2 linked regions of the Homo sapiens genome follow. The protein of the gene in region 1 purifies or fractionates together with the protein of each later gene. This does not show direct contact. Each region holds a gene or a part of one and is shown on either strand. Other genes may lie near its edges.

Evidence for each region.
Region 2: the proteins of NUP210 (region 1) and NOCT purify together in Homo sapiens (affinity purification with mass spectrometry; 2 studies listed by BioGRID and IntAct, with this or other methods). This does not show direct contact.

The regions. Positions count from the first base shown.
Region 1 is NC_000003.12:13,417,104-13,425,318, forward strand, and holds the start of NUP210 (nuclear pore membrane glycoprotein 210 precursor), read right to left. Parts: upstream 3,220-8,215; 5' UTR 3,124-3,219; coding exon 2,957-3,123; intron 1-2,956. UniProt on the Homo sapiens protein: Nucleoporin essential for nuclear pore assembly and fusion, nuclear pore spacing, as well as structural integrity.
Region 2 is NC_000004.12:139,039,526-139,046,889, reverse strand, and holds the end of NOCT (nocturnin), read right to left. Parts: intron 3,817-7,364; coding exon 3,547-3,816; intron 2,252-3,546; coding exon 1,416-2,251; 3' UTR 951-1,415; downstream 1-950. UniProt on the Homo sapiens protein: Phosphatase which catalyzes the conversion of NADP(+) to NAD(+) and of NADPH to NADH. Shows a small preference for NADPH over NADP(+). Represses translation and promotes degradation of target mRNA molecules.

The sequences.
Region 1 (8,215 bases):
CTGGCAAATTAGCCAGAGGCTGCCAGTCCCCAGGTCTAATGGCGTGGGACAGGGAGGGGTCCCAGCAGCTCCTGCTCCAACTCAGTGTCCATCGCTACAAGACTTCCCAGAGATCACTTCCCCTTCTGGAGCTCAGGTTTTCCTATATGAAACACAGGCTGTTTAAACTAGGTGACCTCTAAGGTTCCCCTGGCCCGAAAACTGTCCAATTTTGATGTTATAAAATAAAAAAAATAGGAAAAGTAAACATGAAGCTGTTGGCTCAGGCACACACAGTGATTTCTGTAAACTTAGAGCTCAGCTGCAAATTCAATGGATGTGCAAATGTTCCCACAGGGTCTGGCAGAATTCTCATTTTCTTTTTCGTCTGAGAGACTTAACAATGAACTTTCTGGATGAAGAGGTAATGTTCCTCCCAGGTTTAGAGGACTGTGGATATATGTCTATAGGCCAGCTCTTAAAATCTCCAGAGCAGATTCTTCAAAACTGCAGCAATAGACGACTACACTAGGAACAGCAATACTAAAAATAAAGAAAATATTCTCAATGCTTGATTGACAGAATGTCTTCCTGTCAAGTTAAGGGGGAATCACAATTTCCAAACACCTCTGAGAAGACACTTTGAATAGCAGTCACACATCTGCAGTCACACATCTGCAATACAAACTACAGATCAACGCCAAACACGTTATAAGGTACTTAGCACTTCTCTGATGCATCAGAGATTAAGAATGTTTTTTCCCTTTTTCCTACCAAGTAAATTAAAATCCACCAACACCCTTCAGCTCCTCTCAGAAAAGAAAATGATGTTGGGGGGGAAAAAAGTGTTGTTAGTTTAGAAAAAGAAAAAAGTACAGCTATAGAATCTCAGAGAAAGTAACACACAAATATATCCAAAGGGATTCACTTGAAGCCAGCTGTTTTTAATAACCAGTTTCCTCTTTCTTGCCCACATACTGAGAGGACAGACAGCTTCAACAAGAGAATGAGCATGTATCCCCGCCACAGTATTGACTAACAGCTGATTTTCCCACACAAGACTAGGCCTTAGACTGGGATACAGAAAACCTAATGCCCAAGTTCAGCCTCTGGCATCAGGCCAGAAATAGGAGCCTCCAGGTGCATAAAGCACTAAAACCAAAATGCAATGGGCTGACCTAGTACGTCTTGATTTCAGGAAGGAGACCTTCAAAAAAGAAATAGGGCAGGCCGGGTGCAGTGGCTCACGCCTGTAATCCCAGCACTTTGGGAGGCAGAGGCGGCGGGATCACTTGAGGTCAGGAGTTCGAGACCAGCCTGACCAACATAGTGAAACCCCATCTTTACTAAAAATACAAAAATTGGCCAGACAAGCCAGGCATGGTGGCTCACGCCTGTAATCTCAGCATTTTGGGAAGCTGAGGCAGGTGGATCGCTTGAGGAGTTCTCCTTGGTCTTGAGGAGTTCAAGACCAGCCTGGCCAACACAGTGAATCCAGAGTTTGAGACCAGCCTGGCCAACATAGTGAAACCCCGTCTCTACTAAAATGCAAAAAACTAGCTGGGTGTTGTGGCGGGCGCCTGTAATCCCAGCTACTCGGGAGGCTGAGGCAGGAGAATCGCTTGAACCGGGGAGGCGGAAGTTGCAGTGGACAGAGATCGCGCCATTGCACTCCAGCCTGGGCAACAAGGGCTGGAGTGCACTCTAAAAACAAACAAACAAACAAACAAAATTAGCCAGGTGGCCTGCACCTGTAATCCCAGCTACGAGGCGGGAGAATCGCTTGAACCCGGGAGGTGGAGGTTGCAGTGAGCCGAAATCGCACCACTGCACGTCAGCATGGACGACAAAGCAAAACTCCGTCTCAAAAAAAAAAAAAAAAAAAAAAAAAGAAAGAAAGAAATAGGGCAAATAGTGCAAGCAACAGAGAAAGCTGGCTGGTCTGAGCTTCGGGCATCACACTTACATACACGCACAGACTAATACTCAAACAGGCTTGACACACACATGTCCAGGCTTACACACATGGCTGTCACGTGGTCACACCCCGTTCTGCCTCAACCTTGACCCAGTCTTGAAACAGAAATAAAGGGAGCAACTACTGAGCATCCTGGGGGTGGGAAGGGCGGAAGCCCATCTTTTCACCCCTAGGACGGCTGGGCTGGGAAGCTAAGGGCGCTCAGTCGTGCCCACGCAGCCTTGCCAGGGGCAGGAGCTCCATTTCCCCTGGTCTGCAAAATGGAAGGGCTGGACTGCACCGCCCTGTCAGTGTCGGTCTCTGGTTTCATGGGTCCCTGTGGTTCCACAGGGTCACACTCCGCATCCGACCCCTTGGAGAACTCCCAACCCGAGAGGGAGGGTGATGGAAATGCCCTGAGCATCAGGACCCGCGCCGAGGCAGCCTGAGGGGAAGCGCCGGCCTGCCTCGTCTCACTTCGCCTCTGTAAAGCGGCCCCTGGGCTTCCCTCCAAAACTCCTTTCCTCCAGGGTCTCCGTTCCTCCCCGCGACGCTAGGCGCTGCGCTTCGTTTCACAGACTCACTTCCCACGCCAGGGCGAGGGCGGTCACAGACAAACCCGAGCTGGGGTCCCAGACTCAAGGGAAGTGCGGCCCAGCTGCCCCGGCGCCCCCTCCCGGGTCAGGCCGGCTCGGGCCCGGCCGGCTTGGGCCCTGCGGTCCCAGACGCCGCTCCCCAGGCCACCCCTCCTCCCGCACAACCCAGAACACGCGGGTCACGGCCGCCAGGCTGCGCCCGCTCTGCTCGCGCCTCAGCGGCGCGGAGGCCCGGACGGCGCCATGACATGAGCAGTGGTGGCGACCCACGCGCACCCGCCGCTCCGAGTGCTGCAGCCTAGCGCCCAGCGAGAGCGCGCCGCGCACCTGCCGGCTCTGCCGGCCTCCCGGCGCCCGCCCAGCCTCTCAGCGCGAAGGCCCAGCCCGGCCCACGGCGCCCGCCCGGCCCGGCCGCGCGCCTCACCAGCGGTAGCAGCCCTCCGAGGCCTCCAGCGTGAAGTTAACGCGCGTGGCCCGCGTGAAGGGCAGCAGCACTTTGGGGATGTTGAGCTTGGCCGCAGCGGCGGAGGGGCCCGCCGCCAACAGCACCGACAGCGTCAGCAGCAGCAGCCCCCGGCCCCGCGCCGCCATCCTCGCCGCGCGTCACCTCCCGCGACCCTGCGCCCGGCCGCCCGCGCCGCCCCGTTGCCCTCCGCTCCCGCCCGCGCGCGCGCCAGGCCAGCAGGTGATGAGCGCGGGGGCGGGGCGAGGGCCGTCGGCGGCCGCCGCTTCCTGGGCCTGAGCGCGGGAACTCTGGGGGCCGAGCTCGCGGCGACCCCACCCCCAGCCCGGCCCTCGCGCAGGGACGCGGGGCTGGGGGATGGGCGCGCGCCCGGGCCCCCGGAGCTGAGGGAGAAGGCTTGGGGCGCGCCCGCGGGGACCCCTGGACCCTAGAAGTCCCAAGGGGGAGCCCCCGGGGCGCCCCGCAGCACGCATCCCGCCCTGGTATTTGCCCCTGGCGGTGGAGCCAAGCCGCCGGCTTTGGACCTTGCGCTCTGGCCCGGACCCACGGTCAGCAAGGAAGGGACACATGCCCCAGGACATTTGGGATGCAGAAAACCGGCGCCTGCCTTGTCCCAGCCCATGCTTCCCAGAAGAGGGACCCCGGGCTCGCAAAGGGAAGCCACCTGCTGAAGCGCTGAAGGCCCGGGGCCCGCTCCCCCTCGACCCCCTCACACCCTTTCCAGAGAGGCCTTAAGATTCCCATTTCTCCAGGAAAAAACCGGTTGAATGGCCCCCAGATCACTCAGCCAGAGAGCCCCAAGCTCTTGTCCTCCGCACTGCACCCCCTGCGGAAGCCATTAGAGGTTACCTATAGGTCATTTAGGGCGCCAACGCTGCCAGAGCACAACCCCCTCCACGGCCCCCACACCCACAAAAGAAAGTTTAGCACCGCGGAATCCACCTGCACACCAATGGAAGGCCTTAGATTCCGCGCTGTGCTCTGTGGCTTTTAGCTGTCTGTCGTGAATTGCATGAAGGCATGCGTCAGCAGGCACCTGACTGCTTGGTGCCGCTAAAATATGAATCTAGCCTTGCAGAGAAGGCCCAGCCTAGCGGGAGGTCAGGAAAGGGTGGGGTGAGGGTGCACTGGCCGGCTGTCTGAGGAGTGCAGGAAGTGGATGCTGACTGTAACCAGGAAGACACACAACGATGCCACTGGGTGACCAGGAAGGAGAGGATAAATGTCAGTAAGGCTAGGAAGGCTTTTTGGAGGCGGCGGCCCCTGGGTTGGGCATAGACACCGCACTGGGCTTCAGCGAGGCCCGCATAGGCTGAGCCTGCCCCTCAGGGATCATGGGGCTTTTGGATGGTGATGCGGGGTGTTTGGGGTCACCCTCGAAGCCTGAGGGCCCTAGACCAGGGAATGTGTGTGTTGGGGGAAATCTCTGGAGATAACCAGAACTAAGGGGGTGAGGGTCGGCCCTGTGTGGAACCAGGTGCTCTGGGAGGGGAATTCCAACGGGCTCCCTTTGAAGAAACAAAAAACAGACTTGCGCGGAAAAGGCAGCCTCAGAGGGTATTTGTGAGGAAGTCTGTGGGTGTCTTCTGGGTTGCACAAGATTGATTTGTTTTCCAACAGGTAATCCAGACAGATGGTTGAAACTTAGGCTCAAAAGGGTTCCAAGTGAAAGTGATTCCTCTCCCTCCCCATCACCCAATACCCTTCCCTACAGGCAATGAGTGTTTCCCACTTGAGTATACATCCAGAGAAATTTTATGCATAAACAAGCATATATATATATAAAACATGGCACACATGCACACACATACACATACATGCACACACATATGTATATATGAAATATGGCACATATACATACATATACATATGTCTTGCGAGGCAGGTAAATCTCACTCTTGGACATATATCCTAGAGAAATGAAAAGTGATGTTCCCACAATCACCTGTACATAAAACATTCATAGCAGCTTTATCAAATAGGCCCAAACTGGAAACAGCACAGAGGTCCTTCATGGGTGATGATTAAATACTGTGGCACATCTATGCCATGGAATATTATTCAGCAAAAAAAGAAATGAACTGCTAATACATCCATCTTGGATGAAGCTCCAGGGAATTATACGGACTGGAAAACAAACACTACAAAAGCACAAAAGGTTACATACTGTAAACTTGCTTTTATACAAGATTATTGAGTTGGCAAAATTATAGAAGTATAGAGCAGGTGAGTGATTGTGGGGTCAGGGGCGGCGTGGCATAGGAAGTGATGTGGCTATAAAAGGTCAACATGAGGAGTCCCTGGGATGGAAGTGCTTGGTGGCTTGACTGTATCAATGTCCATTTCCTGGTTGTGATATTATCCCATAGTTTTGCAAGATGTCTACTAGTGGAAACGGGGTAAAGGGCACATATTATAGCATCTCTCTTGTTATTTGTTACAACTGCATGTAATCTACAATTATCTCAAAAAAAGAATCATACAAACAGGCCCAGCAAAACACATCTGAGTGGACACAGCTTGCTAAACAACTACGTTTCAGGTGATTTAAGGCAATCAGGAAATTTTCCCAGCAGAAAACAATCCATGGAAGACAACAAAATGGGCCGGGTGCGGTGGCTGTCACCTGTAATCCCAGCACTTTGGGAGGCCAAGGTGGGCAGATCACCTGAGGTCAGGAGTTTGAGACCAGCCTGGCCAACATGGCAAAACCCTATCTCTACTAAAAATACAAAAAGTCGCCAGACATGGTGGCATGCATCTGTAATCCCAGCTACTGGGGAGGCTGAGGCAGGAGAATCACTTGAACCTGGGAGGTGGAGGTTGCAGTGAGCTGGGATCAAGCCACTGCACTACAGCATGTGCAACAAGAAACTCCATCTCAAAAAAAAAAAGGCAACAAAATGATGGGTAAAACATTTTCCATCTGAGATTTTATCCCTTTACGTTGTCCTTAAACTTGCCCCCAGACCCCATTTCACTTGCCTACAAACCTGGTATGAGATGGTATTTGGGGCCAAGCCAGGGGTCCATGTGTAGGGGCCACCCCCACCTTCTCTGTGGGCTGTTTCCACTCCCTGGCATTGGGCCCCTTCTTTGGGTGTCAGTGTTTATCTGAGATGCAGGGAGCCAGCCATGGACAATGGCCTGAGCACAGCCTTCTGTCCTGGCACAGAGACCCTCTGGGCTGGAAGAGACCACAGATTTGAGTGAGCCGGTTACCCACCTGATAACTAAAACCAGATAGGAAAATGTCTCCTGACCCACATCAGGGTCTCCCAAACTTCTGTTACTTTCTACCACCCTAAAACATTTTAAAAAATAATATCTATCTGAGTGCCACTTGTGCTGTTATTTCCTGTCTTTAAATCAAAGTGTTTACATATATTTACTTAAGAAGCAAACTTTGTCTCTTCTGTTAATAAAAAGCCATTATCAGTTTGCAAAATATAATAGAAGTAGCCATAAAATAAATACAGCGAAACAAAAGAATGCCTTCAAATTACCGCAGGATACTATTTCTTGCTAAAGGCTGAGAGCCCAAGGCCTGCTCTCAGGGCCTTCAGTGGGAAGATAACCAAACACAAGACAGTGTGAAGGACAAACCACACTAATCTTGACCTTTCTCCTTGGGCATACAAGTATGGAGAGATTTTTCAAGGCAATTAACTTTTTCCTAGGGGGACGTTGTCCTTTTAGAGCCTACCCACCATCTTTTTGTGACAACAGTAATTTTTATTTGTATTTCATTTATTTATTTATTTTTGAGACAGGGTCTCTCACTCTGTCACCCAGGCTGGAGTGCAGTGGTGCAATCTCAGCTCACCACAGCCTCTACCTCCTGGGCTCCAGCCATCCTCCCATCTCAACCTCCTGAGTAACTGGGATTATAGGTGTGTGCCACCACATCCAGCTAATTTTTGCTTTTTGTTTTGTTTTGTTTTGTTTGTAGAGACAGGGTTTCGCCATGTTGCCCTGGCTGGTCTCGAACTCCTGGACTCAAAGGATCTGTGCCCCTTGGCCTCCCAAAGTGCTGGGATTACAGCCATGAGCCACTGTGCCCAGCCCAAACAGTAATTTTAAAGAATCATTCTGCAGTGGGGAAACTTAAAGAGTCATAGAGTAGACAGTGGTATAATGAAGCCCCATGACTGTCCAGTTCTGTGGCCACAATCCACAGCCAATTCTGCTGCTTCTGCAGTCACCACAGGCCCCACCCTATCTCATTTTGAAACAAATCCAAGATATCCTGTCATTTCGTCTGTATTTCAGTTTGTATCGCTAAGAGATAAGGACCCTTTTATAGACATAACCACAATACTATTATCACACATAAAAAAGTTAACAGTAATCTTATGGTCATAAAATATTATTAGAGTTCAAATTTCCAACTGTCTCATACATTCATAATACCTTTTTACAGTTTATACTTTCAGAATCAGGATATAAGTAAAGTTCACACATTGCAATTGATTGAAATGTCTTTTAAGGCTCTTTCAATCTATAGGCTTCCTTCCCCATTTCTCCTTTTCTCCCTGAATTTAAATGTTGCCCTTTGACCTCTGGAGTAGACATTTGTGTTTTCAGACACCCCCAAGCTGAGTCCCCACTAGCCTGGGCCCTACTGCAGCAGCAATGGGGGTTTCCGCCTCTCACAAGTCTGCCCCCAGGCTTTGGTCATGGACTCTGGAAATGGAGGAAAGGGACACCCACTGTGGACCTTCAGCACCACCTCTGAGCTGGAAACCTTGGCTTTGGGCAAAACAAAAAAGAAGTAAAACACCAGGAGCACTGGAATGGCTTCCACCTTTGCAAAGTGCTTTCCAAAACCCCATCATACTTAAGAGAATGGCAACACTTAATTACAGAAATTGCTGCTCAAGTCAATGCCCAGACATGCCTCCTGCTCATGGGGCCCATTTTCTGGATGCGTTTACTCTTCCTCAGAATGTGTTCCTCACACTTGCCACCTTCAGCCTCTGCCAGGATTGGCAATTGTTTGCTTCCTGTGGGCCCCTGGGTCCTTCCCCACAGGCATCACTAGAGGATGATGGCTGCAGAATAAGTGATGGCAGCCAGCTTGTCACACCTTCAGCCTGCCTTGGAAGTCCAAGCGCACGTGTGTTATCCCAGCCACCTCAATCTGATTCCAGCAAACCTAGCTGGATACACAAGGGAGTCCTCAGACATCACCAGGCCACCAACTCTGCAAGAGTACAG
Region 2 (7,364 bases), on another chromosome or scaffold:
CAAGAAACACAATAAGGCCGGGCGCTGTGGCTCACGCCTGTAATCCCAGCACTTTGGGAGGCCAAGGCGGGCAGATCACCAGGTCAGGAGATCGAGACTGAGACCATCCTGACTAACATGGTGAAACCCCGTCTCTACTAAAAATACAAAAAATTAGCCGGGCGTGGTGGCAGGCGCCTGTAGTCCCAGCTACTTGGGAGGCTGAGGCAGGAGAATGGTGTGAACCTGGGAGGCAGAGCTTGCAGTGAGCCGAGACTACACCACTGCACTCCAGCCTGGGCAACAGAGTGAGACTCTGTCTCCAAAAAAAAAAAAAAGAAACACAATAATGGAACATAGAGGCAGGACAAGGATTATTTTTGAAGAATGTATCAAAGAAATCTGACATTTAAATAACAAAAGCCCCTCCAGGCTAAATAGTTCCTTTGTACTCATTTTGTTATAGCCCAAATGAAAATATTTTAAAGCTTTATGAAAATCACCATAAATTACTTTCTCTATAACTTCTCTTGCATGGTTCTAAAATGTTCATAATGCTATAATTTACTTAATTTTATATGAAGATATAAAAAATAAATACTGCCATGCATTTTGTTGACATTTTAAAAACCCACAAATAAATAACTTAAAATGCTGTTTAGAGAAATTGCTCCTACATACTATTATGGAAGATTCAAGCAACAAGTCTAAGTTTTTATAGCATCCTCAAATTGAAAAAGCTTCAAAATAACCGAATTTATTATTATTTTAGAAATAGAGATGGGGTCTCGTGCCATGTTGCCCAGGCTGGACTCGAACTCCTGGGTTCAAGTGATTCTCCCACCTTGGCGTCCCAATGTGTTGGTATTACAGGCATGAGCAGCCACCACACCTGACCAAAACAAGCCAATTTAATGCCCTTAAATGATCAAAATGTAATATTAAGGAAAAGAAAACAACACAAGCCAAAATTGGAGTGCAAACGCCTTTTTCACCATAGGTTTTAATTGAAAAAGGGACTAAAGGGAGTCTTTTCCAAGGGCATGCTGGAAACGCAGAAAATGAAATGATAGAAACTTCCCATGTTTCTATCCTTCCTCTGGCATTGTCTTATCCTATTTGTTTCCTGAAACATTCCCTGTTAAGACTCTTGTGATTCAAGGTCAGGAGATCGAGACCATCCTGGCTAACACGGTGAAACCCCGTCTCTACTAAAAATACAAAAAATTAGCTGGGCGTGGTGACGGGCGCCTGTTGTCCCAGTTGCTCTGGAGGCTGAGGCAGGAGAATGCCATGAACCCGGGAGGCGGATCTTGCAGTGAGCCGAGATCAGGCCACTGTACTCCAGCCTAGGCAACAGAGCGAGACTCTGTCTCAAAAAAAAAAAAAAAAAAAAAAAAATAGACTCCTGTGATTAAAAAGACAAAAGCAAGTATTTATGAAAGTCCATCAGATTCCTCAGTAAAGCTGAAGTCACACACTAGAGACAGGTGGTCTGAAGGATAATTGAAGGAAGGTAACCTGTTGGGTCCAATCTGTTCTTCAGTGAGCAGATCGAGAGCTGACCTTACATTTAGAGCATGTTTAGAATACCAGATGTAATCCAGGGTGTGCCTGCACTCCCCTGAGGTCCGGATCTTCCAGGTAGTGTATGGGGGTTCTGACTGCCCATCAGCACTCAGCAGCTTGTAGGCGCTGTTCAGGTTGAGGCTGGAGGAAGCAAAGTGTTTGTAGACCTCTTCTGTTGGCTCTGCATTGAAGTCCCCACACACAATAAGGGGAATCTTGGCTCCTTGGGTGATGTTTTGCAGGTTCTGAAGGAGGTCACAGCCTTGAGCTGATCGAAACCGCTCCCAGCCAGTGCGTGCTTTTAGATGGGTAACAGCGATGCAGAACTGTCGGCCTGACTCCTTGCACTCCAGGGTCTGTGCAATGGCCACCTGGTTGGTTTTCAATGTCATGGCTGTCAGCCTAATATTGGCACTGTTGACTAGCTTGAATCGGTTTTGAAGAAAAAATAAGGCACAACCATCTGGTCCATTGTTGTGTTCTACATCTAGACAAGGTGACCAGGGTTTGGGGAAAAACGTGCCTTGATAGCCTAGTCTACTGAGGAGTGGCTGGAAGGTGTCAAAATAGTGGTCCACCTCTTGGAGGCACAATATATCAGGCTGGTAGGCCAGGATTTCTTCCAGGATGAGACATTTCCTTTCTTCCCATTTGAGTGCTTCAACAGGGCACTGTACAAAGTTGTCTTTGCCTTCTCCAAGAGCTGAAAAGAAAAAGCTAGTCAGTTGTCAGCTCTTACAAAACCGTGACTTCAAAGTACCCAGGAGGTTTGGCATCACTCAAGACCCTCAGAATGCTTCCTCTGCTTTAAATGCTTGGAGTGGCTCTCTGTCCAAACTGTATTACCCCATCCAAACTAAATCACCTCTCACTATGTGGATGAAGCAAACAACAGATCTTTTGTTTCGAAATGATTTCATGTTAACTATATTCCAGGATATTAAGATCTTACTTAAGGAAACTGCTTTGCAGTGCCAGGGATCTAAGCTATATAAAATGAAATAAATGCCAATTTTCTTTTAAAATTTTTTTGGTTTTTTTAAACACCAAATATTTAACACCAAGTATTAGTTTTAACCCTGACTATTATGGACACTACTCAGAATGAATGGAACTTATTTTAAATAGGCAGCTTTTCCTACTTAGGGAAAAAGAATCAAAGATTGGTAAGTCACGGAATCTCCCCTTATTTTCCAGGAAAAAAAAAAATCAGGCCCTTGTTTTTCTTAAAATCTCAACTGCTTACATAAAAGGCAATGCTACATAGAGTTGATTGACACATCTGTTTTTTAATTTGGCAGACCCAGGAAAGAAGTCCTTACTACTGTAACAAAGTGTATATATATATATATATATATATACATATTTTTTTGAGACAGTGTCTCACTCTGTTGCCCAGGCTGGAGTGCAGTGGCTCAATCTCAGCTCACTGCAACCTCGATCTTGTTGCCCAGGCTGCAGTGCAATGGCGCAATCTCAGCTCACTGCAACCACCACTTTCTGGGTTCAAGCGATTCTCCTGCCTCAGCCTCCCGAGTAGCTGGGATTACAGGCATGCGCCACCACACCCGGCTAATTTTGTATTTTTAGTAGAAACGGGGTTTCTCCATGTTGGTCAGGCTGGTCTCGAACTCCTGACCACAGGTGATCCACCCACCTCGGCCTCCCAAAGTGCTGGGATTACAGGTGTGAGCCACTGCACCTGACTTGGTTTTTACAATTAAAGCAAGTAACTCGTGGTTTATTCTTTACACCTTCCATGTTTGTAGACTATCCAAGAACAATTAAAGTGTCTTTTTTCTTTCTAAAAAAAAAAAAAAAGTGAAAACCAGATGATTCCCTGTCTTAACCTCTTCTAGGAGCTCTCCATGCTGCTGCAGTCACCTCCATCTGCCCACACCTCTTCCTTCCACATAAAACAGTGCACTGTGGATGTGCAGAAGCAGAAAGGCAGTCACAGCAAACTTGACTGCAGAGGCACAAAAGCATCCAGCATACCTTGGGCGAGGATGTTCCATTGCATAACCCTGATAGGTGGGTGGGTACTAGGGCAATCTGTCCTCAGATCCACAAAATCCCTCTGGAACCGGGGAGGTCGGGTGTGCAGGACGGCCCTGCATTCCTCAAGAAGCTCTTTAGGATCAATGGGCTCCAGATGCTCTGGGTCAGGTGACACCAAATACTCTGGGTGCTGGGAGGCAGCGCTGCTGTTCAGTGTCTTGGCGAGAGCACTATAGAGTCTGCTTGTACCGGTTCCCATGGAACACACTACGGAAAAGGAAATCACAGTTACACACTCAGCTCCTTTTCCTGACTTCTCGCCCAGCACAACTGTAAGATAAACATTTACTGTCCACCGAAACCAGGAGCTCAATTGTTGCCATAATAGTGTATAAAGCCATTTCTTTTTTCTTTTTTTTTTTTTTTGAGATGGAGTTTCGCTCTTGTTGCCCAGGCTGGAGTGCAATGGCACAATCTCGGCTCACCGCAACCTCCACCCCCAGGTTCAAGCAATTCTCCTGCCTCAGCCTCCCAAGTAGCTGGGATTACAGGCATGCACCTCTACCCGCTGCTAATTTTGTATTTTCAGTAGAGATGGGGTTTCCCCATGTTGGTCAGGCTAGTCTGGAACTCCCGACCTCAGGTGATCTGCCCGCCTCGGCCTCCCAAAGTGCTGGGATTACAAGCATGAGCCACCACGCCCGGCGTATAAAGCCATTTCTACAGAGGCAGAATAAAGGAGTTTCCAGGTTCCAGCTTTCTACTAGGACAGTTAATTTAAGTACTACCGTTAAAACTAGCCTCTGATTAACAATGAAAACTCATCCTTTTAAGGAAGAAATACTTTGATCTTGATGGCCTCTTCTAACCTAGGATTTGTCTTTGTAATTTATAAAACCAGTCTTAAAAAAAGAGCAAGGCTTAACAAAATCTACATTCCTTTTTCTATATATCTTAAGAACCTCAAGACTAGGCTGGGCATGGTGGCTCACACCTGTAATCCCAGTACTTTGGGAGGCTGAGGCAGGTGGATCACTTGAGGTCAGGAGTTCGAGACCAGCCTGGCCAACATGGAGAAACCCTGCCTCTACCAAAAACATAAAAAATTAGCCGGGTGTGGTGGTGTGCGCCTGTAATCCCAGCTACTCAGGAGGCTGAGGCAGGCGAATTGCTTGAACCAGGGAGATGGTGGTTGCAGTGAGCTGAGGTGACTCTATTGAGCTCCAGCCTGGGTGACACAGCGAGACTCAAAAAAAAAAAAAAAAAAAAGATCTTAAAGACTAGTTTGTAAAAAGTGAAATGTTAGAAAGCCCATGTTAATGTTAATCCTGGGTGAGAGATTAGGTAATAGCAGGCTGCTTGCTACGCTGGTCATCTCATCTATACAGATCCCTCTGTTGGGGAAAGTAATGGCTAGATTCTTTCCCATTTCTCCTAGATGTTAAGTGTAAATCAAGGCTTGGGCTTTCTGTAGTAGAACTCTGAACTTCACTGAGTGGTATACTCTATAATCTTGTATCAATTGCTGGATTTCTTAAAATCCAGAAAAGGGGCTGAGGCCAGAAGGGCTTAGAGTAAGCTGATTTTGTTCAGCTAACTTCCATCCAGGGCACTACCTTCTCATGAGTTGCCCACATTTCCTGGGATCCTAGAAAGACAAAGAACAAGGAAAAATGCAGGAAGCACCAGTTACTTTGTCTTCCCGAGTTAATTTTTAGTGTTTTGCTTTTTATAATTCATTAAGGAGAACAGAGCATAATCTTCAACTAATTAGCATTATGTGGCAGTTCACTTGAAAGCAGTTGATTGCTCTTTTAGAGGTCAACTATGTTTTATTTTCATTATAGTATAAATTAGGGGCACATTTTACTGGGAGTAACATCCAAGATTCTCTGTATGATAAATGCTGGTACCAGGCAATCTGGATTTCCCTCTCTTGAGAGATACAAAGTTTTCTTTATAAAACATAAACATTTTATAAATGTAAACATTATATAAAGTTTTCTTTATAAAATTTGGCAGGCTTATCAATCACATCTCAAACTAGCAGTCAATCAAATTCACTGTGGCAGGTTACAAAGGAAATTCAATTATTTACCACCAAATGTCCTTGAACATTAAGGTCAATGAGGATGCAAGCATGCTTTTTTTGTTCCTTCCTGTCTACTCAAAGTAGTTTTTCCCTCCAGTAAGAAAGCTAGACTACAGCAAATGAACACATACTAATTTTCCCAACAAACATAGCAGGTGTGTGTGCATCTGCAAGCAAGCATGCTCTCCCACAAATACACACATATACAACTGTTTCCAAACTGATTTCAATAATTTCATTTTAATTGATAAATACATGAGTACATGGGTCCAAAGGAAGAAATTTTCTTCATGGCTGGCAGTACAAGTTTTGAAAGTCTTTCTTCTTGTACTTTTTTTTTTTACTTCCTGTAGGTTTTTTGGGGAAAACAAACAAAAAACAGCCAAACATCCAAGTGTGGTCTCCTGATCAGCAATATCAGCATCACCTGGGATTGTGATCCCCAAATTGTGAGCTAACGTGTCCCAGGGAACCACAGCAAACTCACAGGGACACCATGGTATATTTTATATTTTAAATGTGAAATAAACAGTGACGTTTGACACCTGTCAGGCTCTGGGCTTGATGTAGAGCTCAGTTTCAATAGGACTGCCCTACATTCCTTTTGATGACATTTTATCTTTGCCAAGCTGAGTTTTAGGGTGGTTATATGAAAAAACTACCATGCAAAAATGAATGTGCAGAAGGAAGGATGTCCAATGGGAGTCAAACGTTTGAGGAGTACGTGAAATCAGAAAAGCAATCCTGAACCACACTTCCTTCTAAAAATTTAGAAAAATCAATTTCACATGAAGAGAATAAAGAATAGAACAATATCAGACAGTGAAAGCATGCCAGAAATGTGCCCAGGAAGCAAATCAAACTGCATCCTATTGCAGAGTGAGCTAAGTCTTTAAGAAAATGATACAAGGCTGGGCGCGGTGTCTCAAGCCTGTAATCCCAGCACTTTGGGAGGCCGAGGCGGGCGCATCATGAGGTCAGAAGATCGAGACCATCTTGGCTAACACAGTGAAACCCCGTCTCTACTAAAAAATACAAAAAAAAAAAAATTAGCTGGGCATGGTGGCGGGCGCCTGTAGTCCCAGCTGCTTCGGAGGCTGAGGCAGGAGGCTCCCGGGAGGCGGAGCTTGCAGTGAGCCGAGATCGCGCCACTGCACTCCAGCCTGGGCGACAGACCGAGACTCCGTCTCAAAAAAAAAAAAAAAAGAAAATGATACAAGAGGCCGGACGCGGTGGCTCATGCCTGTAATCCCAGCACTTTGGGAGGCTGAGGCGGGCGGATCACCTGAGGTCAGGAGTTCAACATCAGCCTGGCCTACGTAGCAAAGCCCCGTCTCTACTAAAAAGGCAAAAATTAGCCAGGCATGGTGTTGGGCGCCTGTAATCCCAGCTACTCGCGAGGGTGAGGCAGGAGAATCGCTTGAACTCGGGAGGAGGAGGTTGCAGGAAGCCGAGATGGCGCCATTCCACTCCAGCCTGGCAATAGAGCGATACTCCATCTCAAAACAAAACAAAACAAAAAGATACAAGACATGAAAGAATAACCTAAATCAGAATTAGAAAATTCAGAAATTAGACACCAAAAAGAATTAGCAATAAAAATTAAAAAGAAATGAGAAAAAGATCAGAGTCAAACCTAAGGATTGCTTTTTTTAAAAAAAAATAAAAGGGAGAAAGTGACAAATACTAAAAATGAGCAAAGACCCAAAATATGAGTAATAGC